7 linked regions of the Homo sapiens genome follow. The protein of the gene in region 1 purifies or fractionates together with the protein of each later gene. This does not show direct contact. Each region holds a gene or a part of one and is shown on either strand. Other genes may lie near its edges.

Region 1 (4,040 bases):
TTCTCATCACTTGATGCCTCTCTTCAGATACCTCCCTCCCTCAGTCCTTCCCTCTCCACTAGCTTCTTGTCCTTGGTTAACAAACGCTTGGCCAGGTGCGGTGGCTCATGCCTGTAATCCCAGCACTTTAGGAGGCCGAGGCGGGCAGATCTCAAGTCAGGAGATTGAGACCATCCTGGCTAATACGGTGAAACCGGGTCTCTACTAAAAATACAAAAAAAAAAAATTAGCCCGGCGTGGTGGCGGGCACCTGTAGTCCCAGCTACTCAGGAGGCTGAAGCAGAAGAATGGCATGAACCCGAGAGCAGAGATTGCAGTGAGTTGAGATTGCGCCACTGCACTCCAGCCTGGGTGACAGAGTGAAACTGTCTCAAAAAAAAAAAAAAAAACAAAAGAACGCTCAATTTTCAATAATCCTGAAACATATTTTCTTGACATTACTTCCCAATCAGGTTACCTATTTCTCTCTTTCCTTTCCTGAATGAATAATCTCTATCTCATCACCATTCTACTGAAACTGTTAAAGGTTAGTAGTTACTTTTAATTCCAAGGAAACTGGTCACTGATCAGTCCCCACTCAACTTGACTTCTCTACAGGATTTGTTACTAGACAACTAAATACCAAACTAGGTATTTAGGTATCCAGGACACTATCATTTTCTATGACTATTCTAGTCATCCTTCAAATTTTTCATTGGTTTTCCTGCCCATTGTCAAATGATGTTTTTTATTGTACACCCTGCTTAGGACATTGATGAGTCCCAAGTTCTAGGGTTTAGACCACTCTCTGAGCTCTAATATTCAACCATCTACTACCTTGGTACTAAAATAGGATGGGTAATGCAAACACAACATAATTTTTAGTATCTTTCTCCTAAACTCACCTCTTAATTCAGTCCATGGTGTCAATCCTCCAGCTGTCCAAGCAAGGAACATTTGAGTTATCTGTAAATCCTCCACATTCAACTGATCACCTAATATCATCAAATGCGTATCATTTACAACTCCCCTCAGTTGCCTCCTCTGTCATCTCTACAGTCATTTCCCTACATTGAGGCTTCAATGAATACAACAGCTTCACTAATAGCATTTCCATAATGAAATGCTCTATGATGTGTACCAAATAAGATCTACCGTCCCTGACACAGGATATAAAGGCCCCTCACAACCCAATGGTTTACACTTCTATCTTTTCAGTTTCATCTATATTGTCTAAAACCTCCTGTTCTATAATCTGCCCCCAACCCTCCACACACATATTAGACTCTTGGAGGCAACATATATTTTCAACTCTCTCATCATTTGTTCACCCAGTAAACAATGATTTCATTGTTTAGAGTCCACTCCAAAGGTCATATCTCTGTGACTTTTTGTGATCCTCCCCTGAAGAATGGATAATTCAATCATTTGTGAATTACAGATAGTGATTCTACTTTGCTTAGTATTTTGCCCTATTATATGGTTTTATCACACCATACTATTTTAACTATATATTTACATACCATTTTCTCCTGGTGCTCTTGGAGGATCAGGCTTCACTCATTTTTATTCTTTATTCATAAAATATAGTAGGATCTCTCTTCCCTTTCACCTGCCATTATTTCAATCCCTCCAAACTCACTGTACTCCCAAAAGTCAAAGAAAAAAAGGAGAAATAATGTGTAAATAACAATCATTGACAACTTTGGGCACCGAGAAGAGTAAAATAAATCAGGGGGCAGAGGTTAAGTGTATGCCCTCAAATCCAAAGGCTGGCTGGGATTTAGAGGGGCATTAGGGAGGATGTCCTGTACCAAAAGAAGCTTCAAGCAACCATGGCCAAAGAACACCTGATGGCTAAAGGGACTATTTTAAGGTCCTATTTTAAAATAAAGGTGTGGTGGCTCATGTCTGTAATCCCAGCACTTTGGGAGGCCAAGGCAGGCAGATAGCCTGAAGTCAGGAGTTTGAGACTAGCCTGGCTAACATGGTGAAACCCTGTCTCTACTAAAAATACAAAAATTAGCCGGCTGTGGTGGTGTGCACCTGTAGTCTCAGCTACTTGGGAGGCTGAGGCAGGAGAATTGCTTGAACCCAGGAGGCAGAGGTTGCAGTGAGCCGAGATTGTGCCACTGCACTCCAGCCTAGGTAACAGAGCAAGACTCCATCTCAAAAAAATAATAATAAATAAATATGTATAGGGCTGGGCGTGGTGGCTCATGCCTATAATCCTAGCACTTTCAGAGGCCAAGGCACGTGGATCACTTGACGTCAGGAGTTTGACACTAGCCTGGTCAACATAGCGAAATGCCGTCTCTACAGAAAATACAAAAATTAGCCGGGCATGGTGGCATGAGCCTGTAGTCGCAGCTCCTCGGGAGGCTGAGGTATGAGAATCACTTGAACCCAGGAGGTAGAGGTTGCAGTGAGCCAAGATTCTGCCACTGCACTCTAGCCTGGGCCACACAGTGAGATTGTCTAAAAACAAATAAATAATAAATAAATTTTAAAAAATGTATAAAGTACTAATAATGCCCACTCATCATGCAATAATATTTACTTCAATGCACTTATTGAGGGCCTACGACAAGCCAGTCGTTGCCCTGAACAATGGAGATAAATAGGTGAACACAACAGATAAGGTCCTGCTCTCATGAATCATATGTTCTAACAAGGGAGTCACAACTATATAATGTAATGTTAGCTAGTGATACACAACTACATAATGAAAGGTTAGCTAGTGATAAATACTATGAAGAAAAATAACAGTAAAGCTGGGGTAGGGTGGGCTGGGGTGGGTGGCTATTTCACAGGGTGATCAAGGAAGGTCTTCTTAAAAAGGTGACATTTTACTGAGATTTAATGAAACAAAGCATCTGAGTCATATGCAAATATCAGCAGGAAGAGTCTTCCAGGCAAAAAAGCAAATTGGAAGAAGCAAAGATGGGACCTTGCTTGAAAGATTCAAGAAACAATGTGGTGGTGGCACAGTAACTGAAGGAGGGTCATAGGAAATGAAGTCAACTCACTAGATAAAATAACAGGATTAGTCAAAAAGAGTGATTACAGGTAATTTTGACTACATACAATTTCTGTCCTGTAAGCTGACTTAGTTTGACCTGACACTTTACTGTAAATAAACTAACGCAGCATTATCCCACAATGGGAGTATGAAAAGTTACCACATGATAAAGAAGTAAGGTCAATAGTCACATCCTATTTATAATTCACCAATTTTCATCTCCAGTCCTGACCTTAAAATCTAACTTCAGTATCTTGTCCTCTCCAGAGATCCAACACTCAATTCTGAATCCCCACTTCCTCAGCAATCCCTAGACCCCAGGCTAAATTAGCACTTGGGGGCAGGACCTTTGATTTTTATTCTTATTTATTTATTTATTTTGACATGGAGTTTTGCTCTTGTTGCCCAGGCTGGAGTGCAATGGCACAATCTCGGCTCACTGCAACCTCCACCTCCAGGGTTCAAGTGATTCTCCTGCTTCAGCCTCCCGAGTAGCTGGGATTACAGGCATGTACCACCATGCCCAGCTAATTTTATATTTTTAGTAGAAACGGGGTTTCTCCATGTTGGTCAGGCTGGTCTTGAACTTCCAACCTCAGCTGATCAGCCCGCCTCAGCCTCCCAAAGTGCTGGGATTACAGGGGTGATCCACTGTGCCCAGCCAGACCTTCGATTCTTATTTGAATTCTTAAAGACATTTACCTTTTTTTTTTTTTTTTTTTTTGAGATACAGTCTCTGTCCCCCAGGCTGGAGTGCAGTGGTGTGATCTAGGCTCACTGCAACCTCTGCCTCCCAGGTTCAAGCAATTCTTGTGCCTCAGCCTCCTGAGCAGCAGGGATTACAGGCACGCTCCACCATGCCTGGCTAATTTTTGTATTTTTAGTAGAGACGGGGTTTCACTATGTTGGCCAGGCTGGTCTTGTGATCTCAGGTGATTTGCCCACCTTTGCATCCCAAAGTGCTGGGATTACAGGCTTCAGCCACCGCGCATAAAAATCTTACCATTCATCTTATCTCATTCCCATCAGGGATCTAAAC
Region 2 (4,040 bases), on another chromosome or scaffold:
AGGAGTTCAAGACCAGCCTGGCCAACATGGTGAAACCCCATCTCTACCAAAAATTAGAAAAAGTAGCCAGGCGTGGTGGCACACACCTGTAGTCCCAGCTACTCAGGAGGCTAAAGCGGGAGAATCATTTGAACCTGGGAGGCGGAGGGGTTGCAGTGAGCCAAGATTGTGCCACTGTACTCCAGCCTGGGTGACAGAGTGAGACTCTGGTCTCAAAAATAAATAAATAAATAAGTAATAAAAAATAAATAACACAAATACTCTTATACCTTTTAATTTTATAATAGTATAGCATTTTATTTTTTGGTATATTCTGCTTGCATATCTTGGTAACAGTATATACCATTTTAATTGCAGTTGCATAGTAATTACACAGATTGCAGGACAATATCTAATTTAATTACTAGTATCTTCAGCAAATGTAGTGAGATTAAGATCCAGTTCTTTTGTTTTTTTGTTTTTTTTTGTAATTGAGACAGAGTCTTGCTCTGTCACGCAGGCTGGAGTGCAGTGGCGTGATACCAGCTCACTGCAACCTCCGCCTCCCAGGCTCAAGTGATCCTCCCACCTCAGCCTCCCAAGTAGCTGGGACTACAGGCATGCACCACCACACACAGCTCATTTTTGTATTTTTAGTAGAGATGGTGTTTAGCCATGTCAAGTGACCTGCCCGCTTTGGCCACCTAAAATGCTGGGATTACAGGCATGAGCCATCATGCCCAGCCTAAGATCTAGTTCTTGACTTTATGCCACGTAATTTATGAGGCTGAAGTAAGAACTTCAGTTTAATATTTTGTGCACCTTTTCAGACTAAGTTTTGTAAAGAGGTGAAATAGTTTTTTTAATTCAAAAGAGTAAAGGAAAACAATTCATTCAATTTATTTTGAAAGGTTTTAAAGAATTATAAGAAGATAATTTTTTCAGAAATTGATTTTAAGAACTGGTATTCCACATACAGTTCTTGAATGTACTACATATATTAGACTAGTGTATAATTAAGGTTTAATAATTTTACCCTGTTTCAAAGAATTTAAATTATTGTATCTGATAGTTAACCTGGATGAATCGTTACATTGTTAAGGGATGCACAGATCAAAATAATAGTTGTAGACCTTAATTACTAAGAAGCCTGGGAGGTTTTTAAGTTATGAATCTCATAGTTTGTTCTGTAAGCTATATGTTATGAATGTAACAGTAATAGTCTTCTAATTAACATATTTGTCTATGTATTGGTTTATTCATTCATTTGGCCAACATTGACTACTGTAGTAGATGCTAGAATACAGATGTGAATAGAACAAATAAGGTTCTTGGTCTTTTAATGAAGTAGACAGGCATTTTACAATTAAGCCCCACAGTGAAATAACAATAAACCAATGCAAAATGCAACAAACACTAATGAGAGAATAGGAGAGGAGACCTACTTTAGACTGAATGGTTTCTGATTTGTAATGCATTAGGAGTTGGCCAGGCAGAAAGAAGAGGATCAGACTCCAGGTCATGGGAGCAACATATGTTCGGGCCAGAAAGTGCCAAGCTGTTAGAAGCCATTGTAAGCTAGAGCCTGGAAGGTGAAGGAGGTGGTAGGCAGATCATGGAAGTCCTTTAGGCCATGGTAAAAAGCTGAGGGTTTTTTGGTTTGTTTTTGTTTTTCTAAGTGGAATAGTTTTAAGTAGCAAGCAGAGTGGTATCTGATTTAGGTGAAGAATGAATGGACAGGAAGAGGGAGGGTTAGGCAAGAGTGGAAACAAACTCTAATGCCTAGTTTCCTGTGTACACTGATTTCCTTATGTGACAGGACATACTGAAGATTGCACAGTATCATAACAGAGCTCATTAGAATTTAGTTGACTTATTAATTTTCACCACGGATCAGTCGACTGCTTGATAGGAGCCAAACTAGCTAGATACAAGGTATAAAAGAAGGTAGCTAGTGATTTAATTTTATCCTTTCCTCTTCTAATGAATTCTCCCTGATACATGCAAGCATCCTTACAGAGTGCATAATCATGATGTGGAGCAGTGCCTAGTACTTAATATATATCTAGTTTTGGATTTTTTGTTAATATTTCTGTTCTTGGTACTTCTGCTCATCCAAAGCCCTAATTATGTCTTTTTTAGTCCTTTTTCCTCAGTTTTGGCCAAATCCCATTACTCTTTTGGTCTGCTTCCCCTTTGAAGCAGCTGACATTTTGTGTAATATAAAATCTTACCTAATCTTGAGCATAGAGGTGGGATAGGAAACTGAGATTCCCTTTAGAAATAAAAGGTTTCTCATTCCAGCTTTGAAAATTTCACCTAAGTGGATTAGCTATAGAGCAAGCATAAATATTGGTTCAGCTTAAGAGATTAAAAAGACACTTGGGGAAAAAAGTGGTAGTATATGAAAAAGCAGGATTTAAATCTGTCAGTACTATGATATCAGTTATATTAAGAAAACTTTATACTTAGAAATTACGTGCCCTATTAGAGAAGTCATTGCACTATTCCACAGACATTTTTTTCGATCTTCCTTTTCATCTATTTGTGCCAGAATACCATTTATTAAAAATAAAATTTAATTTCTACAGCTTCCTAATCTCTTGTTTTACGGACCACCTGGAACTGGAAAAACATCCACTATTTTGGCAGCAGCTAGAGAACTCTTTGGGTACGTTGAAATCAGTCTGTTTTTCTTTTTTTAAAGATTTGACACCAAAATTCTCTGATATTGCTTTTTTTCCTCTAAAAATTTGCGTTTCGTTTTCTGTAGGATAGTTTTCTATTTCTGATTTTTAAAAATCCCATGAGCCATTTTGTTCCTCCCTCACTCCCCTGAAGAAATCAGCTTGCCTGCGTCTTTTGTGACCTTCATTGTGAATCTTGTTCAAGTGTGGGGAGCCTATGATTTTTTCCATCACTTTCTTTAAATTTTCCATTATAACTTTGGAGTCCAGAGGGCCCAACTTAATGTCCAGTTGTGCTGATAGTTTTATCACCCTCTTAATGATTGTGTTCACATCTGTGTGGCTACATGATAGAATCTGCTGTTTCTGATGGCACTATTTGCACCATCCATTCTTGAGTCCTGCTCTGGACTTCCTAGGCTCTGACTCTGGAGTGGCCAGTCCAGCTCCTTGCCTCAGGTCTCCTGAGCACAAGTGATGGTTGATGTAGTGTGATTCCAGGTACACCAGAAAATCTTCCTGTGAGTCACCTTCTTATGTTCCTCTTCCTAGATTGACCATCTTGGCTTAACCAGCCATTCTAGAGGAGCCCTTTACCTAGAGTTAAAAGATGTGTAGTGGGCTGGGTCTGATATACATGAAACATGCACCAACATAACAAAGGCTGTTTTGAGTTTATCCAGAATTAATATCAGACATACAACTGATAGAAATATCTGAAATCCTACATATGAAAATAGGCTGGGTGTGGTGGCTCACATCTGTAATCCCAGCACTTTGGGAGGCCGAGGCAGGTGGATCACCTGGGGTGAGGAGTTCGAAACCAGCCTGGCCAACATGGTGAAACCCCATCTCTACTAAAAATACAAAAATTTGCCAGGCATGGTGGCATGCACCTGTAGTCCCAGCTACTCGGCAGGCTGAGGCAGGAGAATCACTTGAACCTGGGAGGCAGAGGTTGCAGTGAGCCGAGATCACGCCACTGCACTCCAGCCTGGGTGACAGAGCGAGACTCCGTCTCAAAAAAAAAAAGACGCCACTGAAATCACCAAATGTGTAAGGATTATTAGTTATGTCAAAATGTAAAAGACAAAGGGAGAAGCTGCTATGTGCCTAATATTTTATTTGACAGCAATTTTTTATTCTCAGTAAAATTATAGAAGAACTTTTTTGATTATTCCACAACTCAATCAGATAGAACCAATCTGAATCAGCCTTAACAGTTGTTTATTATTACTTAGAGTAGGTCAGTCCAGATTATACAACTTTTTCTATATCCTTTATGAAATAATGTTTGTCTTTAAAGAACTTACTTTAACAGTGAATTTCATATTTAATATTGTGGCTTTAAAATAGAAAATAGATGCATGTAAA
Region 3 (4,040 bases), on another chromosome or scaffold:
AGCCTAATATGGAAAATCTGAGGCCAAGTAAAAAATAGTTTTATTTTTAGTATTTCATTATTCCATTGTTTGAATTAGTGTGAATCAATGCTATATTAGATTGTTTTATATAATGTAGGTCTATAATTGGAACAGATGTTCTTTATCTTTAGAGCCACTCTTTCTATAAATATCTGGCATACCAAGCCACAGTTAAATCGAAGAGATTGGGGGTTGACCTTTTTTCTTTTGTGCCCTCACATTGACTGCTTCCTTAGGTTAATGATCTAGCAAATACTGTTGTGTTTAAAATCTACTAATTTTGCCAGACACGGTGGCTCACGCCTGTAATCCCAGCACTTTGGGAGGCCGAGGTGGTTGGATCACCTGAGGTCAGGAGTTCAAGACCAGCCTGGCCAACATGGTGAAACACCATCTCTACTTAAAATACAAAAAAAAAATTAGCTGGGCGTGGTGGCGGGTGCCTGTAATCCCAGCTACTCAGGAGGCTGAGGCAGGAGAATCACTTGAACCCAGGAGGCAGAGGTTGCAGTGAGCTGAGATCGTGCCATCGCACTCTAGCCTGGGTGACAAGCGTGAAACTCCGTCTCAAAAAAAAAAATCTAATTTTAAATTGGAATATTGTGTTTATCTGTGTACTATTAGGAAGGTCTTTTATCACTTGCCTATAACTTCTACATTCTTAGGAACTTTTAGATTTTCTGGCTTTTTTTTTGTTTTTGTGGGTTTTTTTTGTTGTTTTTTGAGACGGAGTCTCGCTCTGTCTCCCAGTCTGGAGTGCAGTGGCACGATCTCGGCTCACTGCAAGCTCTGCCTTCCGGGTTCACGTCATTCTCCTTCCTCAGCCTCCTGAGTAGCTGGGACTACAGGCGCCCGCCACCACGCCCAGCTAATTTTTTGTATTTTTTAGTAGAGACGGGGTTTCACTGTGTTAGCCGGGATGGTCTCAATCTCCTGACCTCGTAATCCACCCACCTCGGCCTCCCAAAGTGCTGGGATTACAGGCATGAGCCACTGCGCCCGGCCAGAACTTTTAGATTTTCTCATTTCCCAGTTGCATGTTAGGTAGGATTATTTTAATTTAGCTTTACAAAGTTACATATTTAAATTACGCTAAAATGCAGCTGTCTGCACTCACTGGATTTAAATAGTGTAGCTGATTTTTGTAGCATTACTTTAGTGAGTTAGTACCTACGGGCCAAAGCCTTAAGTGTTAGAAAGGCTAGAGTCTAGCCACAAGTCGAATTGTCAAAGAAAAGCCAAGTATTATACTTCTTTATCTGTCTTTCTGTATCATTTCCTTATTAGGAAAAACTGAGCTGATCCTTCTTAACTAGCTATGTCAAGAGTTTCTCACTTTCTTATGTGAGATAGTTCATCTTCTGTTTTAAGATCAAGAAAGAATCAAGTTAACTAGCGTTCTCTACCATTTCTTAAATGAATGTTATTCCAGTTTCCAGAGGGCAGCGTCTTTTGTTCAGATATTACTGGGCCTTGTGGGAAGGTAATGTGACTTTCCTCTTAGGGAAGGCAGGAGCTAGGGAAAGGAAGGGTAGTAATTTCTTTTCTTTTCTTTTTTTTTTTTTTTTTTTTTAAGATGGAGTCTCACTCTGTAGCCCAGGCTGGAGTGCAGTGGCGTGATGTCGGTTCACTGCAAGCTCCGCCTCCCGGTTTCACACCATTCTCCTGCCTCAGCCTCCCGAGTAGCTGGGACTACAGGCTCCCGCCACCACGCCCAGCTAATTTTTTTGTATTTTTTAGTAGAGACGGGGTTTCACTGTGTTAGCCGGGATGGTCTCAATCTCCTGACCTCGTGATCCACCCACCTCGGCCTCCCAAAGTGCTGGGATTACAGGCGTGAGCCACTGCACCTGGCCAATTTCTTCTTTCTTTTGAAGAATGGGGTCAGTCTGCCTTTATTTGCACAGGGTTGTGGGTAGATTTTCCAGTAAAAAGTAAATAACTGGTAATGAAAATTAGGACTTTTTCATGGTGAGAGATTTTCTTTGCAATATACGCTTATTTTGCTATCTGTTATTTGTGTTTGTACAGATAAACATGATGCTGGCAAACCTGTACAAGAAGGCTGGTCAGGAGCGCCCTTCAGTCACCAGCTATAAGGAGGTGCTGAGGCAGTGCCCATTAGCCCTTGATGCCATTCTAGGTAGAGATATTTCCTGCCTGTTTTCATGGCATGTTTACTGTCAAAGATAGTAGTTCTCAATCTTGCCTGTACATTAGAATAACTTTATTTTTTTTAAAAGTTCCCCTGAAGAGAGTGATTTAGTAGGATTCCTGTTGTCACATATTCAATCAAGAAATACTTAATTATGGTTTTTGGCCGGGCATGGTGGCTTACACCTGTAATTCTAGCACCTTGGGAGGCTGAGGTGGGTGGATTGCCTGAGCTCAGCAGGTCGAGACCAGCCTGGGCAACATGGCACAACCCCGTCTCTACTAAAAATACAAAAATTAGCCAGGCATGGTGGCGCGTGCCTGTAGTCCCAGCTTCTCGGAAGGCTGGGGCATGAGTATCGCTTGAACCCAGGAGGCAGAGGTTGCAGTGAGCTGAGATTGTGCCACTGCATTCCAGCCCAGGGGGACAGAACAAGACACTGTCTCAAAAAGAAAAGAAATACTAAATTATGGTTTTTCTCTCATGCATCGCTCAGAATAGGGAAGCAGTTGCCTTTTAGCCAAGGGAAGATGTAGCCCGTTGCTCCTTGCATGTGGAAGAGAGATATCGTGCCTTACTTTCTTTCTTCTGCTTTCTGTTGGTTTAGGCTTGTTGTCCCTTTCTGTAAAAGGGGCAGAGGTGGCATCCATGACAATGAATGTGATCCAAACCGTGCCTAACTTGGACTGGCTCTCTGTGTGGATCAAAGCGTATGCTTTTGTGCACACTGGTGACAACTCAAGAGCAATCAGTACCATCTGGTGAGAGCCACAAAGTTAATTCAGTGTTCTTGAGGCCCTTTGCTTGTCTGGAAGTCTGATGTATCTGAAGTAGCAAAAAGAAAAATGAGATGCTTTGCTGTTGGTGCTGCAGCCAGTCTCTGGGATGTGTTAGTCTTTTATACTGAATGGTCCCAAATGTAATCATGTAATCATCTCTGTTGGAGACCTGTAAAAATAGAAATCTGACTGAGTTTAGCTCTGTGCCTGCACAGGTAGTAACCCTTGCAAAGCAAAGCAGGCTACCTTGGTGTGTCATTTTTTTTTTTTTTTTTGAGACAAGGTCGGTCTCTCTCTCTCTCTCTCTCTCTCTCTCTCTCTCTCTCTCTCTCTCTCTGTCTCTCTCTCTCTCTGTCTCTCTCTCTCTGTCTCTCTCTCTCTCTGCCTCTCTCTCTCTCTCTGTCTCTCTGTCTCTCTCTCTCTCTCTCTCTCTGTCTCTCTCTCTCTCTCTCTCTCTCTCTCTCTGTCTCTCTGTCTCTCTGTCTCTCTCTCTCTCTCTCTCTCTCCCAGGCTAGAGTGCAGTGGCGCAGTCACAGCTCAGTGTAGCCTTGACCTGTCAATCTCCCGGGCTCAAACCATCCTCCTGCTCAGCCTCCTGAGTATCTGGGACTACAGGCGCATGCCACCACACCCAGCTAATTTTTGTATGTTTTTGTAGAGATGGGATTTCACCATGTTGCCCAAGCTGGTCTTGAATTCCTGGGCTCAAGTGATTCTCCCACGTGGGCCTCCCAAAGTGCTGGGATTATAGACGTGAGCCACCATGCCTGGCCTTGGTGTATCATTCTTCAGCCTGGAAGAAAATCATTTTGCACTCACCAGAAGCTTGGTTTATTGCAGTGTCTAACCTAGCTTGCCTGCTTAGGACTAGGGATTTTCTTTATATTCAGATAAAGTTCAAGGACAAGAAGAGACTTGGGCTTGTGTTATGCAAAGTCGTTTACTTGAGTAATAAATAGGTGTCACTTGTGAATGACATTACCTTTAACACCATGTAGCGTATGTTGTGTTCTGAAGAACTGCAACCACAGAGTTATTTGTTGGTACTGAGAGACTTCTGCTTTATTCTTTGTTTTTGCTATCCT
Region 4 (4,821 bases), on another chromosome or scaffold:
TGGTGAGAACTACAGTTTCTACCTGAAAGGATTGTTATGAGAAATAAATAAGATACTACATATAAGGCACTTAGAGTAGTAAATAAGCATTTCATAAAAGTCAGCTATATTAATAAAGATGAAGAATACTACATATGCTTCTTCCCACAATTATTTTTAAAATTCTACTCAGGCCTGTAATCCCAGCACTTTGGGAGGCCAACACAGGCGGATCACTTAGATCAGGAGTTCAAGACCAGCCTGGCCAACATAGTGAAACCCCATCTCTACTAAAAATATAAAAATTAGCCAGGCATGGTGATGCATGCCTGTAACCCCAGCTACTTGGGAGGCTGAGGTAGGAGAATGGTTTGAACCTGGGGCGGGTGGCTGCAGTGAGCCAAGATCGTGCCACCGCACTCCAGCCTGGGTGACAGAGCAAAACTCTGTCTCAAAAAAAAAGAAAAAAAAAAAATTCTTCGCAGCCCTGCTCTTGATAGGCAATCCTTCTTGATTATCAACAATTTACAAAAGGAGGGTACAAAGATAAAACAAATGTGGTAGGATACCAATTTTTGGATCTGGGTGATGAGGAAAAATATTAAATTACAACCTAACGGTAACAAATCTACTGTGCACTTATTATGTGCCAAGCATTAGCTAAGGGTTTTGCATATATTAATTCCTCTACTCAGAGCCATCCTATATAGCAGGGTCTATCATTATCCTCATTTTGCAGATGATGAAACTGTGGCACAAAGAGATTAAATAAATTGCCCCAAGCTCAGGCAGCTTTAAGTGGCAGGTTGAGGACTAGAACCCCCCTACTTTAGCTCCATAACCCATACGACTGTCACTGTACTAAACTGCATCTCATGAGACCTGATAAATACGTGGCCTGAAACACTCATGCTGTCAAAAACTTCAAGCCACTTTCCAAATTTCTACTGTCTTCCCTTCCCTTCTAATAACCCCTTCCCTTGTTAACACAGACCTCTCCACTAAAAACCCCATCGTATTGTCACTCCTTAAAAGCCTCAAAAGCAGAAAAGATCCTGTCGCCAATCAAACCACCTCCTTTCCCTGCTTTTGAACTCAGGGCGGTGGGGATCAAAGAGACCTAGTGGGTAATTCCATCTAAACTGTAAACTCCTCAACTAATCACCATCGAATGAAAGTTCTACGTGGTGGCTCACGCCTGTAATCTCAACACTTTGGGAGGCTGAGGTGGAAGAATTCCTTGACTCCAGGAGTTCAAGATCAGCCTGTGCAACATAAGGAGACCTCATTTCTACAAAAAAATTTAAAAATTGCGCGTGGGACCACGTGCCTGTGGTCTCAGCTACTCAAGAGGCTGAGGTGGAAGGATCGCTTGAGCCAGGGAGGTCCAGGCTGCAGGGAGCGAGATCACTTCACTGCACTCCAGCCTGAGGGACAGAGTGAGACCCTGTCTCTAAAAAAAAAAAAAAAACTTAAGTAACAAAATAAAGCTCTGCAGTTAGCTTCTCTTCAGGAGGTTTACTTCCAGACCATCCAAATGATTAGAAAGAGGCAGCTCATAAGAGAAACTAAATTACTGCCAAATGCTCATGTCAATACCTACTGGAGGCCGGGTGCGGTGGCTCATCCCTGTAGTTCTAGCTACTTGGCAGGCTGAAGCAGGAGAATCCTGCTTGAACCCGGGAGGCGGAGGTTTCAGTGAGCACATCGTGCCACTGCACTCCAGCCTGGGTAACAGACCCAGACTCCATCTCAAAAAATACAAAAAAAAACAAAACAAAACAAACCTACTGGAAAGGGGTAGGAATTGGAATCTACCTTCATCACCCCATCATTCACTGGGAAGGAAGGCCAAAGCACCAGGTCAGTGGACAGGACATTTCAGGGGTTAAAGTCTAACTAGCTGAAGATTAACTGGAACAAGCCCGCATAGTCTGACAAAATCATATCTATTGACTGGCAGAAAGGGAGAAAATTCCACAGGAAGGGTTGGAATAGAATGGACGAGAGAGACGAGAAAAGCTCTTTCGTAAACGGTTGAGTTCCAGCTGAAAGATTCTAAGGAGGATCTAATGACAGCTGCAATCTGGAATGGCTGCTGTTTCCGAGGTGAGATTAGGAGAGGCAGGGATTAATGAGATATTGAATGCAATCATGAGTGTAATCAAGAGGGTATCCCCAGTAATAAAATGAAAACAGCAAAGCAAGTCTAGAACATCACTGGTAAGAAAACTGTAATCTCTCAAAGAGGGAGTCATTATGCCATTTTACAACTACTGCACCACCTGGGGAGAAATCATGTTTTCTATTAATTTTGCAACTGGCTTTATCTGTCTCTTCCTTCCTAGCCTGATTAATGACAGAGCTGCTTCATTGTTCAGTCCGAGCTGATTTTCATTCCACAGAAGAGGAAAGCAAATGCCCCCACGCCCAGAAAAAATAAAAATTACACTTCATGGAACAAAACGGAAACACAAACTCATCTGGATGTTGACTTGTCTATATGCAACAGCAATCATTTCCTCCTCTCCCCGCTGCCTTCCTAAAGAACAGCAGGATTGGGAAAGGAGACGGGAATCTTGAGACCGCGGGCCTTTCCTGGAGCCGGCCTTGGCTGAGCAGGACACACCCCCGCTAGCGCACTTGCTCCCTCCGTCTACTGCGCGCAAAACCCGATGGAAATAACAGGGAGCCTGGAATAAAGCTGACCCTTTCCCGTATCAGAGCGAAAGGCCAGGTACACGAAGACGGGGCTGGGATCTGTCTCCGAGTTCCCCGCAGTTTCCATGGGAGGGAGCTCGGGTAAAGCTGTGCAATCTGCAGTTCTTCAGACTGCGTCTTTTTGTTTGGGGGCCTTCATTCACTCCGGGGTTCCTGTATCTAACTCGGAGCCATTCCGGGCCGCTGGACCTGGGCGGCTCTGAAGCGAGAAGGCAGAGGACGCAACAGGGCACCCGGCGCCCAGTCAGCGCCACAAACTCCACAGCTACTGCCTCCTGGCTCACACTGAGGTCTGCGCCGCCCCCGCGCCACCCCCGCGCCCATTGCCTCGGTGCAAGCGACCAACTCACCTCTCGGAGCCGACACCAGCAGCGAAGCCGGAAAGAACTGCGAGCGGAGGCCTGTGGGAAATGTAGTCCGCCGATGGGAGGGACTGGTTCCAGCCCCAACGGGCTGCGCGGAGTGCGCATGCGCGGGGGCCGGAGCCCCGGGTGCGCTCGGGGCGGGAAGGCCCTCCGCGCTGCGTGGGGCTGAGGCGAGCTCGGGCTTGCGTTTGCTTTTGTCGCTGAGGAAGACTTTTATTTGTTTATTTTCTTGAGACAGGGTCTTACTCTGTCGCCCAGGCTGGAGTGCAGTGGCGTGATTAGAGCTCACTGCAGCCGCGACCTCCCGGGCTCAAGCGACCCTCCCACCCGAGCCTCCAGAGTAGCTGGGACTGCAGGCGCGCGCCACCACGCCCAACTCATTTTTTAAGTTTTTATAGAGACCAGATCTCCCTATGTTACCCAAGCCGGTGTCGAACTCCTGGGCTTAAAAGATCCTCCCGCCTGAGCCTCCCAAAGTGCTGGGACTACAGGCGTGAGCCACCAGGCTCAGCCGCGGAGGATTTAGAAAGAAGTTTTGGCACCAGCAGATGCCTAATATGTGTACTAAACACCTACCAGTTACTCACTGCATACACCCAAGCAAGGTGTGGGCACACATCAGGCATGCAATGAAAATACTCTCAAAGCCCACCAGAACCTGGAGCAGGACGTAAACCTAGAAAGGTCGCTCGTGCTCACTGCCCTCTCCCTTTCTCCCACTCTGTCTCTGTCTCTGTGTGTGTGTGTGTGTGTGTGTGTGTGTGTGTGTGTGTGTGTGTCTCGTATCTCCTGCAGTTGTGAATGTATTGTTCTACTAAAAATACAAAAAATTAGCCGGGCGTGGTCGCGCGCGCCTGTAATCCCAGCTACTCAGGAGGCTGAGGCAGGAAAATCGCTTGAACCCGGGAAGCGGAGGTTGCATTGAGCTGAGATCCGCCATTGCACCCCAGCTTGGGCAACAAGAGCGAAACTCCGTTTCAAAAGAAAAAGACTAACTGGAGAGGTCTGTCTCCAATGAGACTGAATTTGTCCTGTCCTGCGTTCCTTCAGGAAAGAAATGGGATAAGCCCACCAGGGACCACCCTGAGGCATCTTCTGTATCCCAAATTCTTTGATATATTAGTTAATACATGAAAGAATTTGTTCTTTCCTTAAGAATATAAAACTTTAGAAGATATTTGAAAATGCCTCGGCAATCTGGTTTCATTTTGCAAACAATAGGATATGCATGAAATAGGAGATAAATGAAAAATCTGAGCTACTTTATAACTACTAAGAAGGTGGCCAGACGCGGTGGCTGACGCCTATAATCCCATCACTTTCGGGGGGCCGAGGCGGGTGGATCACCTGAGGTCAGGGGTTTGAGACCAGCCTGGCCAACATGGTGAAACCCCGTCTCTACTAAAAATACAAAAAAATTTAGCTGGGCATGGTGACGCACACCTGTAGTCCCAGCTACTCGGGAGGCTGAGGCAGAAGAATCGCTTGAACCAGGGAGACGGAGGTTGCAGTGAGCCAAGATCGTGCAGCTGCACTCCAGCCTGGGCGACAGAGCAAGACGCCGTATCAAAACAAAAACGAAAACAAAACAAAACAAAAAAAACTACTAAGAAGGCCGAAGGCCCAAAGTATTTTTTTAATTCAAAATCACGGTCCTATGTACATGTTTACAATTAAATTTATGTAAGGAAATCAACACTCCATTAAAAAAACAATAAAAAGAATTATTAAAATAGCTCCTCCATATTCTCTGTTT
Region 5 (4,040 bases), on another chromosome or scaffold:
ACCCCCATGGGGTTTGGAGATCACATGTGGAAGTGGGGGGTGGGGGAAGGGGGCACTGCAATTCCATGGGATCAGAGGCTCCTGTGCTTGGCACCCTTTGGACCTTGACTTCTGTACCTCTTTACCTGGCTGTCATTTGTATCCTATATAATAAACTGTAATTGTGTGACATTTTCCTGAGTTCTGTGAGTCATTCTAGCAAATTATCGAACCTGAGCAGGGAGGTTGTGGCAACCTCCAGTTGTGGTCAAGTTGGACAGAAGTGTGATAACGTGGGGACCCCAGAGTGGCACATGATGTGAGGGCAGTCTTGTGGGACCGAGCCCTGAAACCTGCAGAGTCTGATGATAACCCTCAGCGGTTAGTGTTAGCATAGCATCGAACTCTAGGATACCCAGTTGGCATCAGAGAAAGTGTTGCTGGAAAAGACACTGTGTATTTGGTGTCAGAAAGAACCACAGATTCATAGTTTTTTTTTTTTTTTTTTTTGAGACAGTCTTACTTTGTTGCCCAGGCTGGAGTGCAGTGGCGTGATCTTCGCTCACTGCAACCTCTGCATCCTGGGTTCAAGCGATTCTCATGCTTCATCTAGGTGCCACCATGCCCACCTAATTTTTGTATTTTTAGTAGAGACCATGTTTAGCCATGTTAGCCAGGCTGGTCTCAAACTCCTGACCTCGGGTGATCCGCCCACCTTTGCCTCCCAAAGTGCTGGGTTTACAGGCGTGAGACATCATGCCCGGCCTCATGGATAGATTTTCAATGTGAAAGACTCAAGTTAAATAGTACACATAGTGTGAAAACAAAGTTCCCCCTCTGTATACTTTTTTTCCTAATTCCCTAGTATGTCACTAACAAATGCTTGTCTTCCTGTTCTAGGGATTTACCTGTGAGGACATCTATGTCTGCATGCGTGTGTATGTGTGTGTATACATGCGTTGTATACATATACATGTATCTATGCATGTCAATGCTTACATGTATGATGGCTTATTTTTTATGGCCACTGCATAGTTTATTTGTTGTTTTGCTAAATATCATGGTATAGTTTACATGAAGGGGGTCATGCTAGATTATTCTGCACGTACTATATGACTGTAGCATATAGTTTAGGGTTGCAAGTAGGTGCTGAAAAACACTGCAGACATTCTCATGTTAGCAAGAGGATTTAATGGCTGCATATTACAGAAACTTATGATTTGTTGGATTAATGGATGGCTGCATGGTTATTATAAAATATAGAATATTTTACTATGACTTTGCTTCTTTCACAGTATATTTAAAAAACTAGGAATACAGTTTATTTGTGAACATGAATTTGTACTGCAAGGGTCCACTTATATCCAAACTTGAATCAAAAATATAGTATTCTCAGGATGTGAAACTCGCTTATACAGAGTAACATAAGCAGATTCCACTAGGCCAACTGTAGGTCATGAGTATGCACAATTTCGGTATATGTGGGGCATCCTGAAACCATTCCATTGAGTATACCAAGGGACAACTGTGCAGGTGCAGCTTATGTGGTGAAAATGGGCCGAACAACTTCATATTTCTTCCATGTCAATAAAAGAGAAACATATTAAGCAGGACTGTGTTATTACAGGAATCACTGACCCTGGAGGATGTGGCTGTGGACTTCACCTGGGAGGAGTGGCAGTTCCTGAGCCCTGCTCAGAAGGACCTGTACCGGGATGTGATGTTGGAGAACTACAGCAACCTTGTGTCAGTGGGTGAGGACAGCTGCCCTGTGTCACTCAGAGGGTACCCAGTCAGTGGCCTTTGCTTTCTCAGCTTCTGGAAGCTTTGGTATGTCTGCTGTGCTCCCAAATGGCAGATCCTCAGGCCCGTCTCTGGTCCCACAGGAAGAGGCATAATCTTCCTTCGTCTTAGAAAAAAAGCCTTTAATTTGCTAACATGCAAATTATGCAGTCCCTAACATGTACCTTTCTCCTATCATCAGAGCCACGTGGTGCAATTCAGTGAGCCTAAGTCTTCTCCCATTTCCCACAAACAGGGTATCAAGCCGGCAAACCTGATGCCCTCACCAAGTTGGAACAAGGAGAACCACTATGGACACTAGAAGATGAAATCCACAGTCCAGCCCACCCAGGTAAGTGAGAGAGAACCAGCAAGAGGGGAAGGCAGCGGAAGTCACATTCTGGTCATTTAGAGAAGGCATGACAGTTGTGAAAGTGTCTAGGGAGACAGAAACAGCTGCCACATCTTCTTCTCCCCTAGGATACAAGAGCTCTTTTTCTTATAGGAATTCAGAGAAGCATACATACCCCTTTATCTCTTCTTGGAACTGATCCCTATTCATTTCTTCTTAGATGTTGAGTTGCTTCCCCTAAGTTCTTCTTGCTTGGATTTTCACATCTTCCCATTCTTCTTCATCACTTGTCAGAGGATCATTTTGTGTTTCTGAGGCAAAAACGACAAACTGTTTTTTTCTCTGTCACATAGTCACTCAACACAGCATTTATGCCACTGGATATATAGGGGTTGTTTTCTCACAGCCCAGGCAATTCTCCAGCAGACATCAGCTGGGTATCGTCTGTTTCAAATCAGCTCTGACCCTATCTACCTGATACGGCATCAGATCCCACCGGTTAAGGGCTCAGTCCAAGACTGTGTCCCACTTCAGATGCCAGTGGCAAGTCCCAGGTTGTCACCTCAGCTTCTGACCAACCAGCTGTAAAGTAGGGGTTCCCAAGACCCTCTCCTCAAGTTTGATTAATTTGCTAGAACAGCATTTATATGTATATGCGTGTGTGTATATATGTGTATGTGTGTGTGTATGTGTGTATATACATTTATATATATACTTTATATATTTATATGTATATATACATTTATATAAGAGAGAGAGGGAGAAAGAGTGCCATAAGCATTGTCTAGAGTTACTGATTCATCAAGTGAGATAAGAACTGAGGCATAGGAGGCCGGGCATGGTGGCTCACACCTGTAATCCCAGCACTTTGGGAGGCTGAGGCGGGCGGATCACAAAGTCAGGAGTTTGAGACCAGCTTTGCCAACATGGTGAAACCCCATCTCTACTAAAAATACAAAAATTAGCCGGGCGTGGTGACATGTGCCTGTAGTCCCAGCTACTCAGGAGGCTGAGGCAGGAGAATTACTTGAACCCAGGAGGCAGAGGTTGCAGTGAGCTGAGATCGCGCCATTTCACTCCAGCCTGGGTGACAGAGTGAGACTCTGTTTCAAAAAACAAAAAGAAACGAAAAACAAAAAAACAAAAAAACTGAGGCATCGGTATGTGATTATGGTTTGTTTTTCACATTCTGACACTATGTATTTTTCACCTTGAATTTTCTTTTCATGAAATGGTTTTTAATACACTACAATATAATAATATCTTCCATGTCTAAATTCCCATTCTACTTTGCATCCCAATCACACACAAGCCACTCCCATAGATACCACATCAGTGTGATTTGGTGGTGCTTGAGGTTCCTTTGCTACTCTGGAGTCAAGGGCCTGGTTTTCATTCTTCTTCATGTAAGATTGAAATACATCTTGGTCATTCATGCATTTCTTCATCGAAGGACAGATTAGCCAGGCTGAAGAGAGGTCATACTTTTCCATCTATTAAGCATTTCTTAAAGGCTAGATCTTTATTAAAGGAGTTTTCATGACACTGTCCATACCAAGGCCTCTTGCTCTGTGAGTCTGGTTTTGTTAGAATTGAGTTGGGGGCCTGGGCGTGTCTTTACATGAAGCTCTCTCGGGGGCTGTTTTTATGAGTTGATGAACTGTAGCCATAATACACAGTAGAAGAGACTGAATTTAGTGAGAAACAGAAATGTCTTTCTTGAGCAAAGATTTTGTTAGCAAAAATAGGGCAAATTTTTATGTAATATTTACAAATTAAACTTTTGAACGTGTGAAATGTTTTTGTTACAATTCAGGGCTATACAAAGTTAAAGTGAATAGTAAATACAGAAAGAATTGTAGGACTTTAGAAGAAATGTAACCTACAGTGGTCTAGACAAGATGGAGAAAGACAGACTGATAAAATA
Region 6 (4,040 bases), on another chromosome or scaffold:
TGTAAAGGGCTGACTTCTGTAGTCTCTTCTAGTTTTAAATGCCTATGACTCTTGTACAAAACTATTGCTACCCTACTGTCTTAGAAAACACCCATGGTTCTCTTTTTTCTCTTTTTGTGAGATGGAGTCTTGCTCTGTCGCCCAGGCTGGAGGGTAGCAGTGGTGTGATCTCAGCTCACTGCAGCCTCTACCTCCTGAGTTCAAGCGATTCTCCTGCCTGAGCCTCCCGAGTAGCTGGCACTATAGGTACACGCCACTATGCCTGGCTAATTTTTTGTATTTTTAGTAGAGACGGGGTTTTACCATGTTGGTCAGGCTGGTCTCGAACTCTTGACACCCACCTTGGCCTCCCAAAGTGCTGGGATTACAGGCTTGAGCCACTGTGCCTGGCCTACCTCATATATTGATATATTTTTGGAGACAGGGTCTCACTCTGTTGCGCAGGCTGGAGTCCAGTGATGTGATCATGGCTCACTGCAGCCTCAACCTCCAGGGATCAAGCAATCCTCCTGCCTCAGCCTCCCACGTAGCTGGGACTACAGGCACACGCCACCATGCCCGGCTAATATTTGTATTTTTTGTAGAGACACGGTCTCACATATTGCCCAAGGTGGTCTTGAACTCCTGGGCTCAAGTGATCTGCCCATCTTGGCCTCCCAAAATGCTAGGATTATAGGCGTGAGCCACTGTACCTATCCTAATAAAATATTTCAGAACCAAATGGAACATTTTATTACTTTATATATTTCTTTATTTAAAGAGAGTCTTGCTCTGTTGCCCAGGTTGGAGTGCAGTGGCATAATCTTGGCTCACCGTGGCCTCAATCTCCCAGGCTTATACAATCCTCCCACCTTAGCCACCCAGGTAGCTGGGACTACAGGCATGAGCCACCATGCTTGGCTAGTTTTATTTTATTCTTGTAGAGACAAGGTCTCACTATGTTGTCTAGGCTGGTCTCAAACTTCTGGGCAGTCTTTCCACCTCAGCCTTGCAGAGTGGTACGATTACAGGCATGAGCCACTGTGCTCAGCCCCAAATGGAATATTTTAGAGGGTATTTACAACAACAGCATTAGCTACCAGTCCCTTTCCATTCACTTTTGTAACTTCTATCTTACAAGACAGATTGTTCTTTTTTTTTTGAGACAGTCTTACTCTGCCACCCAGGCTGGAGTGCAGTGTCGTGATCTTGGCTCACTGCAGCCTCTGCCTCGAGGGTTCAAGGGATTCTCATGCCTCAGCCTCCAAGTAGCTGGGATACAGGTGTGAACCACCATGCCTACCTAATTTTTATACTTTTTTTTTTTTTTTTTTTTGAGACCGAGTCTCGCTCCGTCGCCCAGGCTAGAGTCTAGTGGCGTGATCTCGGCTCACTGCAAGCTCCGCCTCCCAGGTTCACGCCATTCTCCTGCCTCGGCCTCCCGAGTAGCTGGGACTACAGGCACCTGCCACCACACCCGTCTAATTTTTTTGTATTTTTAGTAGAGACGGGGTTTCACCGTGTTAGCCAGGATGGTCTCCATCTCCTGACCTCGTGATCTGCTCGCCTTGGCCTCCCAAAATGCTGGGATTACAGGCATGAGCCACCGTGCCCTGCCTAATTTTTATACTTTTAGTAGAGATGGGGTTTCACTATGTTGGCCAGGCTGGTCTCGAACTCCTGGCCTCAAGTGATCCACCCACATCGGCCTCCCAAAGTGCTGGGACTGCAGCCCGGCCAAGATAGATTGTTCTTAGCCTCTCACATGTGGTAGATGGCTTGTGGCTGGGCATAGCCAGCACCAGCACGTGGCAGGGGCTTACTGCTTGCTGGGGAAGGGCCTGGGCCTGGCTGCCTGAACAGAATCCTGGTGCTGCTGCTTATTTAAGCTGTGTAACCTTGACCAAGTGATTTCACACCTCAGTTGTCTCATCTGCAGAACAGCTGTCGGTCATGAAGATTAAGCAAGTCAGTTCATATAAAACACATATACAGTGTCCGGCACATGGTAAATAATCAATGTTAGCTAGTATTCATTACTACCACCAACACTACTAGTATTGCAATTTTATCCTGCAGCTATACTTTTGCTGGAGCTGGTTATCACAAGAAAATGAGCATGAAGTTCAACCCAGGAACTTAAACTGTCAGCAGAAGTAGAACCAGGAGAGTGACAGGATGAAATGGGGCTGAGGATGAGGTGGTGACACCACACAAAAGAGCAATTCGGCTTTTCCTCCCTGGCTTGGAAATCTGGGGGAGTGTTCATGCACACAGACAATAAGAAACACCTGGGAGGAGCCTACTCTGTGACTAAACCCTACACACTGTGATGCTATAGACAGGAGAGTGATTTTTCTTGACCAAATAATCTGCTCATTAAGGGCCAGTGGCAAATACCTGTGAGGCCTATCATGCTAGAAAAAACTCAAAAACGAACAAAAGACTGCATGAAAAGGTGCTCAACATCATTAGTCATTAGAGAAATGAAAATAAAAACCACAACGAGATACCACTTCACATTTGCTGTAAAGTGACACAACCCGAGTGTCCACCCACAGGTGAATGGATAAACAACATGTGGTCTACATATAACGGACCATGACTTCGGCATGAAGTGCTGATACATGCCACAACATGATGAACCTTGAAAACATCATAGGCATTATGATTCCTCTTATATGAAATACCTAGAATAGTCAAATTCATAGAAACAGAAAGTAGATTTGAGATTACCAGGGTTGGCGGAAGGGAATGGGGAGTTACTGTGTAACGGTACAGAGTTTCTGCTTGGAGTGATGAAAAGCTGTGAAAATAGACAGTGGTGATGGTTGTACAACACTGTGAATATAATTAATGCCACTGGTTTGTACACTTAAAAATGGTTAAAACTGCAAATTTTATGTTAGATATTTTACCACAGTAAAACGTATTTAAAAAACAACAAGCAAGGCCAGGTGCAGTGGCTCATGCCTGTAATCCTAGCACTTTGGGAGGCCGAGGCGGGCAGATCACCTGAGGTCAGGAGTTTGAGAACAGCCTGGCCAACATGGTGAAAACCTGTCTCTACTACAAATACAAAAATTAGCTGGGCGTGGTGGCACGTGCCTGTAATCCCAGCTACCCGGAAGGCTGAGGCAGGAGAATTGCTTTAACCCAGGAGGCAGAAGCTGCAGTGAGCTGAGATTGGCGCCACTGCACTCCAGCCTAGGCAACAGAGCAAGACTTCATCCAAACAAACAAACAAACAAACAAACCAAAAAACACCCCAAACAACAAGCAAACAAACAAAACTAACAAAAGGCCATTTCTCCTGCTTTCCAATACATTTGGAAAGGGCACGTCATCTATTTTCTATGGACACATGCTTCATTAGTGTTCTTCTAATTAAAAATACACACTTTTTTCAGCTTACCCCTCCTTTCCAATTCCATCAAAATATCTAACTTATTTTTAATAAGTTACACGATACTTAAAAATATAAGTAAGTCGGCCGGGTGCAGTGGCTCGCGCCTGTAATCCCAGCACTTTGGGAGGCCGAGGCGGGTGTATCATGAAGTCAGGAGTTCAAGACCAGCCCGGCCAAGACGGTGAAACCCCATCTCTACTAAAAATACAAAAATTAGCCGGGTGTGGTGGTGGGCACCTGTAATCCCAGTTACTCAGGAGGCTGAAGCAGAGAGCTGCTTGAACCCGGGAGGCGGAGTTGCAGTCAGCCTGGGTGACAGAGCAAGACTCCGCCTCAAAAAAAAAAAAAATATATATATATATATATAATATATATATTAAGCATTTACTATGTGCCAGGCACCATATTAAGTGCTTTAGATATGTTCTTTCACTTCATCCTTACAATAACCTTATGAGCTATTATTCCTATTTACAAATGAGGTACAGAGAGGTTAAGTAACTTGCCAAGGGTTACATAGTAAGTAAGAGATGGAGCTGGCATTCCAAATGAGCAGTCATACTCCAAGCCTGGCTCTTAAATTATTGGAGAGGCAGCAGAAAATAACAGAAAAACATTAGGATTGGGGTTGGTAGGTCTGAGTCAGTCAGTT
Region 7 (4,040 bases), on another chromosome or scaffold:
TGCAGGTCACCTGAATGCCCCTGCCCTTGGAAACTGCCATGGTCACATAACCCATTCCTGCCAATCAAGGGGAGTTCTGAGATGCAGAACAGATGGGGCAAAACGATGGCTGTCAGAGGCGGACATACTTTACAAAACAAATTACATTTGGCAGAGAAAAGGCAGAGAGGGAGGAGACAGCGGTTGGTTTATTTGGGGAGGAAAAGGGTCATGGTGAAAGAAAAATTGCAAAGAGTCAAAGATTCTGGTAAGTGGAAAGCACTAAAAGGATGGGCAAATACTAGAACAAAACAAAACAGGCGTCGATGAGAGAACACAGCAGACAGGGCCATGGGTGGTGAGAAGGGCAGTCTATTTATCTGCCATTATATTCGCCCAACCATGTGTCTCTGGCAGGCCCATCACATAGGGAGCAGTGCAGGGCTGGAGTCCAGGCTGCCACATGGAGCCTGCCGGGAATGTGGCTTGGTGAGCAGAAAACCTATTTTCTGATTTTTTATTTTTCCTTGTTTCCAGTGGGGTTGGAAGGAGGCTATTTTCTGAACCACCACCATGTGACCCTACAGCAGGCAATTTGGCCTCTGAATTTTGAGCCCCTATAAAGTGATGAAGGAAGAGCACACATCTCAGCCACCTGCAGTGGGCAGAAACCCCAGAGGGCTCATGCAGCTGAGGTGGGAGGAAGGGGTGCTGGTGCGGCTGCCTGGGCATTCAAGACACCGAGTGCTTGTGCTTTGGAAAACACTTCCGTGTCCATTTATAGACTAGTGACAGATGCTAGGTTAGCCCAGAAGTAGCCCAGAACACAGCATGGTGGGCCCCTTCCCTCCGGGCCAGCAAATCAGCTTCACTCATTAAGAAGCTGGGGAATCTCCCATTTGCAAGGCCTGGAAACCTCGCGCCTGCCCCTGGCTTGCGCAGTGGGGAGTGAGGTGAGCATCCCCTGTAACATCTGCAGCCCACCAACTTCACACCAGGCACTGGGCTGGCCACTGCATGTGTGCCTGTGCCTCACCCTGAGCTATTTTAGTTCCAATTTCAACAAATAGAGAAACCCAGGACAGGTAACTCCTCCAGTGTCACATCACTGAGTGGCAGAACCTGGCTTCAAATCGAGTCTTTCTGTGCCTTCCCTCAGCCAGCCAGGGAGGAAATAATAGAGTCTTCATTCTTTTGTTAAGCTTCTTCTGATGAACCATGGGCCTGTTTCCAAATTTGAGTCCCTCTGTCCAACAGCACCAGGAAACCACATCTCCTTCTGCCTCCATTAGCACTCTGGAAAGTCAGTCTGCTCCGTGCGTAGAAACAGACTCCACCCCACAATACAGAAAAGCTTCTACAAGAGAGATGTGTAGGCCACTCCCTGCATCCCCAGCTGGCGCAGGGACAGCACACCAACAATGTCACAGCTGGGCAGAAAGGGGATGGGGAGCACACTGCTACCTCCATTTCCTGGTCACCTGCCCAGATGAGGGTCACAAGCTCTGCTCCTCCTGGGTGGACACCCAGCACCCAGATGCCTAGCATGCCACAGACATTCCTCTCGCCTACCTGACTATAGGCTACGTAGGCGCTGCCACAACTACCCAACCACCACAGCACCCACCTCCTAAAGGCTGCTGTGAGCATTCCCTTTGCCTCCTGGACTCTGGAGAACTTCTCATTCTGACATTCTCTCATTTTCAAAATGTTCTCATGCCTCCCACCATAAACCTCAAATTATGGGACAGTCAACACATCCACACGTTCCCCAAAATCAACTTTCTCCCCAAGGGATGTCTGTTCTATGTCCCTCAGACAGCTGAGCTAAGCCTAGGAAAAAAGAAAAAGAAAAAAGAGGCCAGGCACGGTGGCACACGCCTGTAATCCCAGGACTTTGGGAGGCCAAGGCGGGCGGATCACCTGAGGATGGGAGTTGGAGACCAGCCTGACCAACATGCAGAAACCCCATCTCTACTAAAAATACAAAATTAGCTGGGCATGGTGGCGCGTGCCTGTAATCCCAGCTACTCAGGAGGCTGAGGCAGGAGAATCGCTTGAATCCGGGAGGCGGAGGTTGTGAGGAGCCGAGATCGCGCCATTCAACGCCAGGCTAGGCAACAAGAGCGAAACTCCGTCTCAAAAAAAAAAAAAAGAAAGAAAGAAAGAAAGAAAGAAAGAAAAAACAAAGAAAAAAGAGAAGGCCGGGCGTGGTAGCTCACACCTGTAACCCCAGCACTTTGGAGGCGGGCAGATCACGAGGTCAGGAGATGGAGACCATCCTGGCTAACACGGTGAAACCCCATCTCTACTAAAAAAAATACAAAAAAAAATTAGCCAGGCGTGGTGGCGGGCGCCCATAGTCCCAGCTACTCGGGAGGCTGAGGCAGGAGAATGGCATGAACCCAGGAGGCAGAGCCTGCAGTGAGCCGAGATCGCGCCACTGCACTCCAGCCTGGGCGACAGAGCGAGACTCCGTCTCAAAAAAAAAAAAAAAAAAAGGAAGAACCACATCACAAAGAGATAGGCTGGAAAGAGTTACACACTACAGGACACTTCATCTTTTTAGTGTTCATTTTAAGAGGGAAGATACATAATGTGGCTTTTCCCCATTTTTTACCAGGTAATATAGTCATGCCTTAGTATCCTCAGGGGGTTGGTTCCAAGACTCCCAGTGACACCCAAATCCACAGATGTTCAAGTCCCTGATAAAAAATAGCATAATATTTGCATGTAACCTGTGTACATCCTCCTGTATACTTTAAATCACCTCCAGATTACTTATAATAATACAATGTAAGTGGTATATAAATAGTGGTTATAGTGTATAGTTTTTTCGTGGTGTAATTTTTTACTGGTTTTTCTTTTGGATTTTTTTTTTTTTTAAGATGGGTTCTGTCACCCAGGCTGCAGTGCAGTGGTATGATCGTGTCTTACTGCAGCCTTAACCTCCTGGACTCAAGCCATCCTCCCACCTCAGCCTCCCAAGCAGCTGGGACCACAGGCATGCGCCACCACATACAGCTAGTTTTTTATTTTGTAGAGACGGGCCTCCCTACGTTGCCCAAGCTGGTCTCAAACTCTGGGGCTCAAGCAATCCACCCACCTCGACCTCCCAAAGTGCTGGGATTAGAGGTGTGAGCCACTGTGTCCAGCTCCAGCTTCTGGAATATTTTCTACCTGCAGTTGGATGAACCTGCAGATGTGGCGGGGCTGACTGTACATGCACACAGAACAAAAATCAGCAAGCATGAAAGGATATTTGGTTAAAAAGTCCACTGTTGGCTGGGCGCAGTGGCTCACACCCGTAATCCCAGCATTTTGGGAGGCCAAGCCAGGTGGATCACGAGGTCAAGAGATGGAGCCCATCCTGGCCAACGTGGTGAAACCCCATCTCTACTAAAAATACAAAAATTAGCTGGGCGTGGAGGCACCCACCTGTAGTCCCAGCTACTCCGGAGGCTGAGGCAGGAGAATCGCTTGAACCTGGGAGACAGAGGTTGCAGTGAGCCGAGATCGCGCCACTGCACTCCAGTCTGGGAGACAGAGAAAGACTCTGTCTCAAAAAAGAAAAAAAAAAAAAAAAAGAACTGGGATGGGAGATGACATGGTCTTCTAAGCAGGGGGCGGTTGATCAGGATCACTGGCCTTTTCCCTGTCCAGCCCATAGATTTCCAAAAGGACATTCTCTAGTGAACCCATAGGCGGCTGGGAGTGGCCCGGGGTACCTTTCTATCAAGTTCTTTGAATAGTCAGTTGCTGTGGAGAGAGCAGACAGACCAGGTCTTTTGGGACAGCAGCGTGAGCCTAATCAGAGCTGCCAGAGGCCTGTGGGCCGGGGAGTCACACAGGACAAGCGGCAGGCCCAGAAATGGGAAGTACTTGGGCTTCCTGCAACCTGGAGGTTCAAATTCCAGCCAGCTGACTCCGGATTTTACCCTGCTAGATCAGAGATGTCCTCGCCACTGTGCTGAGGTGCCAGTCCAGGAAGACCTGGCCCCAGCAGCCCTGACCTCATGCCACTCAGGGGCAAATCCCCCTTACCCCTAAGAGCTGTTTCC

What was found.
Region 2: the proteins of SMARCAD1 (region 1) and RFC4 purify together in Homo sapiens (affinity purification with mass spectrometry, with the first as the bait; one study listed by BioGRID). This does not show direct contact.
Region 3: the proteins of SMARCAD1 (region 1) and ANAPC7 purify together in Homo sapiens (affinity purification with mass spectrometry, with the first as the bait; one study listed by BioGRID). This does not show direct contact.
Region 4: the proteins of SMARCAD1 (region 1) and ZFP14 purify together in Homo sapiens (co-immunoprecipitation; one large-scale study listed by IntAct). This does not show direct contact.
Region 5: the proteins of SMARCAD1 (region 1) and ZNF649 purify together in Homo sapiens (affinity purification with mass spectrometry, with the first as the bait; one study listed by BioGRID). This does not show direct contact.
Region 6: the proteins of SMARCAD1 (region 1) and CPSF3 purify together in Homo sapiens (affinity purification with mass spectrometry, with the first as the bait; one study listed by BioGRID). This does not show direct contact.
Region 7: the proteins of SMARCAD1 (region 1) and BEND3 purify together in Homo sapiens (affinity purification with mass spectrometry, with the first as the bait; one study listed by BioGRID). This does not show direct contact.

What each region holds. Positions count from the first base shown.
Region 1 is NC_000004.12:94,210,615-94,214,654, reverse strand, and holds part of SMARCAD1 (SWI/SNF-related matrix-associated actin-dependent regulator of chromatin subfamily A containing DEAD/H box 1), read right to left. Parts: intron 1,621-4,040; exon of another isoform or gene 1,503-1,620; intron 918-1,502; exon of another isoform or gene 885-917; intron 1-884. UniProt on the Homo sapiens protein: DNA helicase that possesses intrinsic ATP-dependent nucleosome-remodeling activity and is both required for DNA repair and heterochromatin organization.
Region 2 is NC_000003.12:186,796,145-186,800,184, reverse strand, and holds part of RFC4 (replication factor C subunit 4), read left to right. Parts: intron 1-2,570; coding exon 2,571-2,650; intron 2,651-4,040. UniProt on the Homo sapiens protein: Subunit of the replication factor C (RFC) complex which acts during elongation of primed DNA templates by DNA polymerases delta and epsilon, and is necessary for ATP-dependent loading of proliferating cell nuclear antigen (PCNA) onto primed DNA.
Region 3 is NC_000012.12:110,386,636-110,390,675, reverse strand, and holds part of ANAPC7 (anaphase-promoting complex subunit 7), read left to right. Parts: intron 1-2,052; coding exon 2,053-2,164; intron 2,165-2,783; coding exon 2,784-2,937; intron 2,938-4,040. UniProt on the Homo sapiens protein: Component of the anaphase promoting complex/cyclosome (APC/C), a cell cycle-regulated E3 ubiquitin ligase that controls progression through mitosis and the G1 phase of the cell cycle.
Region 4 is NC_000019.10:36,376,113-36,380,933, forward strand, and holds the start of ZFP14 (zinc finger protein 14 homolog), read right to left. Parts: upstream 3,090-4,821; 5' UTR 3,051-3,089; intron 1-3,050. UniProt on the Homo sapiens protein: May be involved in transcriptional regulation.
Region 5 is NC_000019.10:51,894,545-51,898,584, reverse strand, and holds part of ZNF649 (zinc finger protein 649), read left to right. Parts: intron 1-1,606; coding exon 1,607-1,733; intron 1,734-2,017; coding exon 2,018-2,113; intron 2,114-2,288; exon of another isoform or gene 2,289-2,424; intron 2,425-4,040. UniProt on the Homo sapiens protein: Transcriptional repressor. Regulator of transcriptional factor complexes and may suppress SRE and AP-1 transcription activities mediated by growth factor signaling pathways.
Region 6 is NC_000002.12:9,443,856-9,447,895, reverse strand, and holds part of CPSF3 (cleavage and polyadenylation specificity factor subunit 3), read right to left. Parts: intron 1-4,040. UniProt on the Homo sapiens protein: Component of the cleavage and polyadenylation specificity factor (CPSF) complex that plays a key role in pre-mRNA 3'-end formation, recognizing the AAUAAA signal sequence and interacting with poly(A) polymerase and other factors to bring about cleavage and poly(A) addition.
Region 7 is NC_000006.12:107,101,829-107,105,868, forward strand, and holds part of BEND3 (BEN domain-containing protein 3), read right to left. Parts: intron 1-4,040. UniProt on the Homo sapiens protein: Transcriptional repressor which associates with the NoRC (nucleolar remodeling complex) complex and plays a key role in repressing rDNA transcription.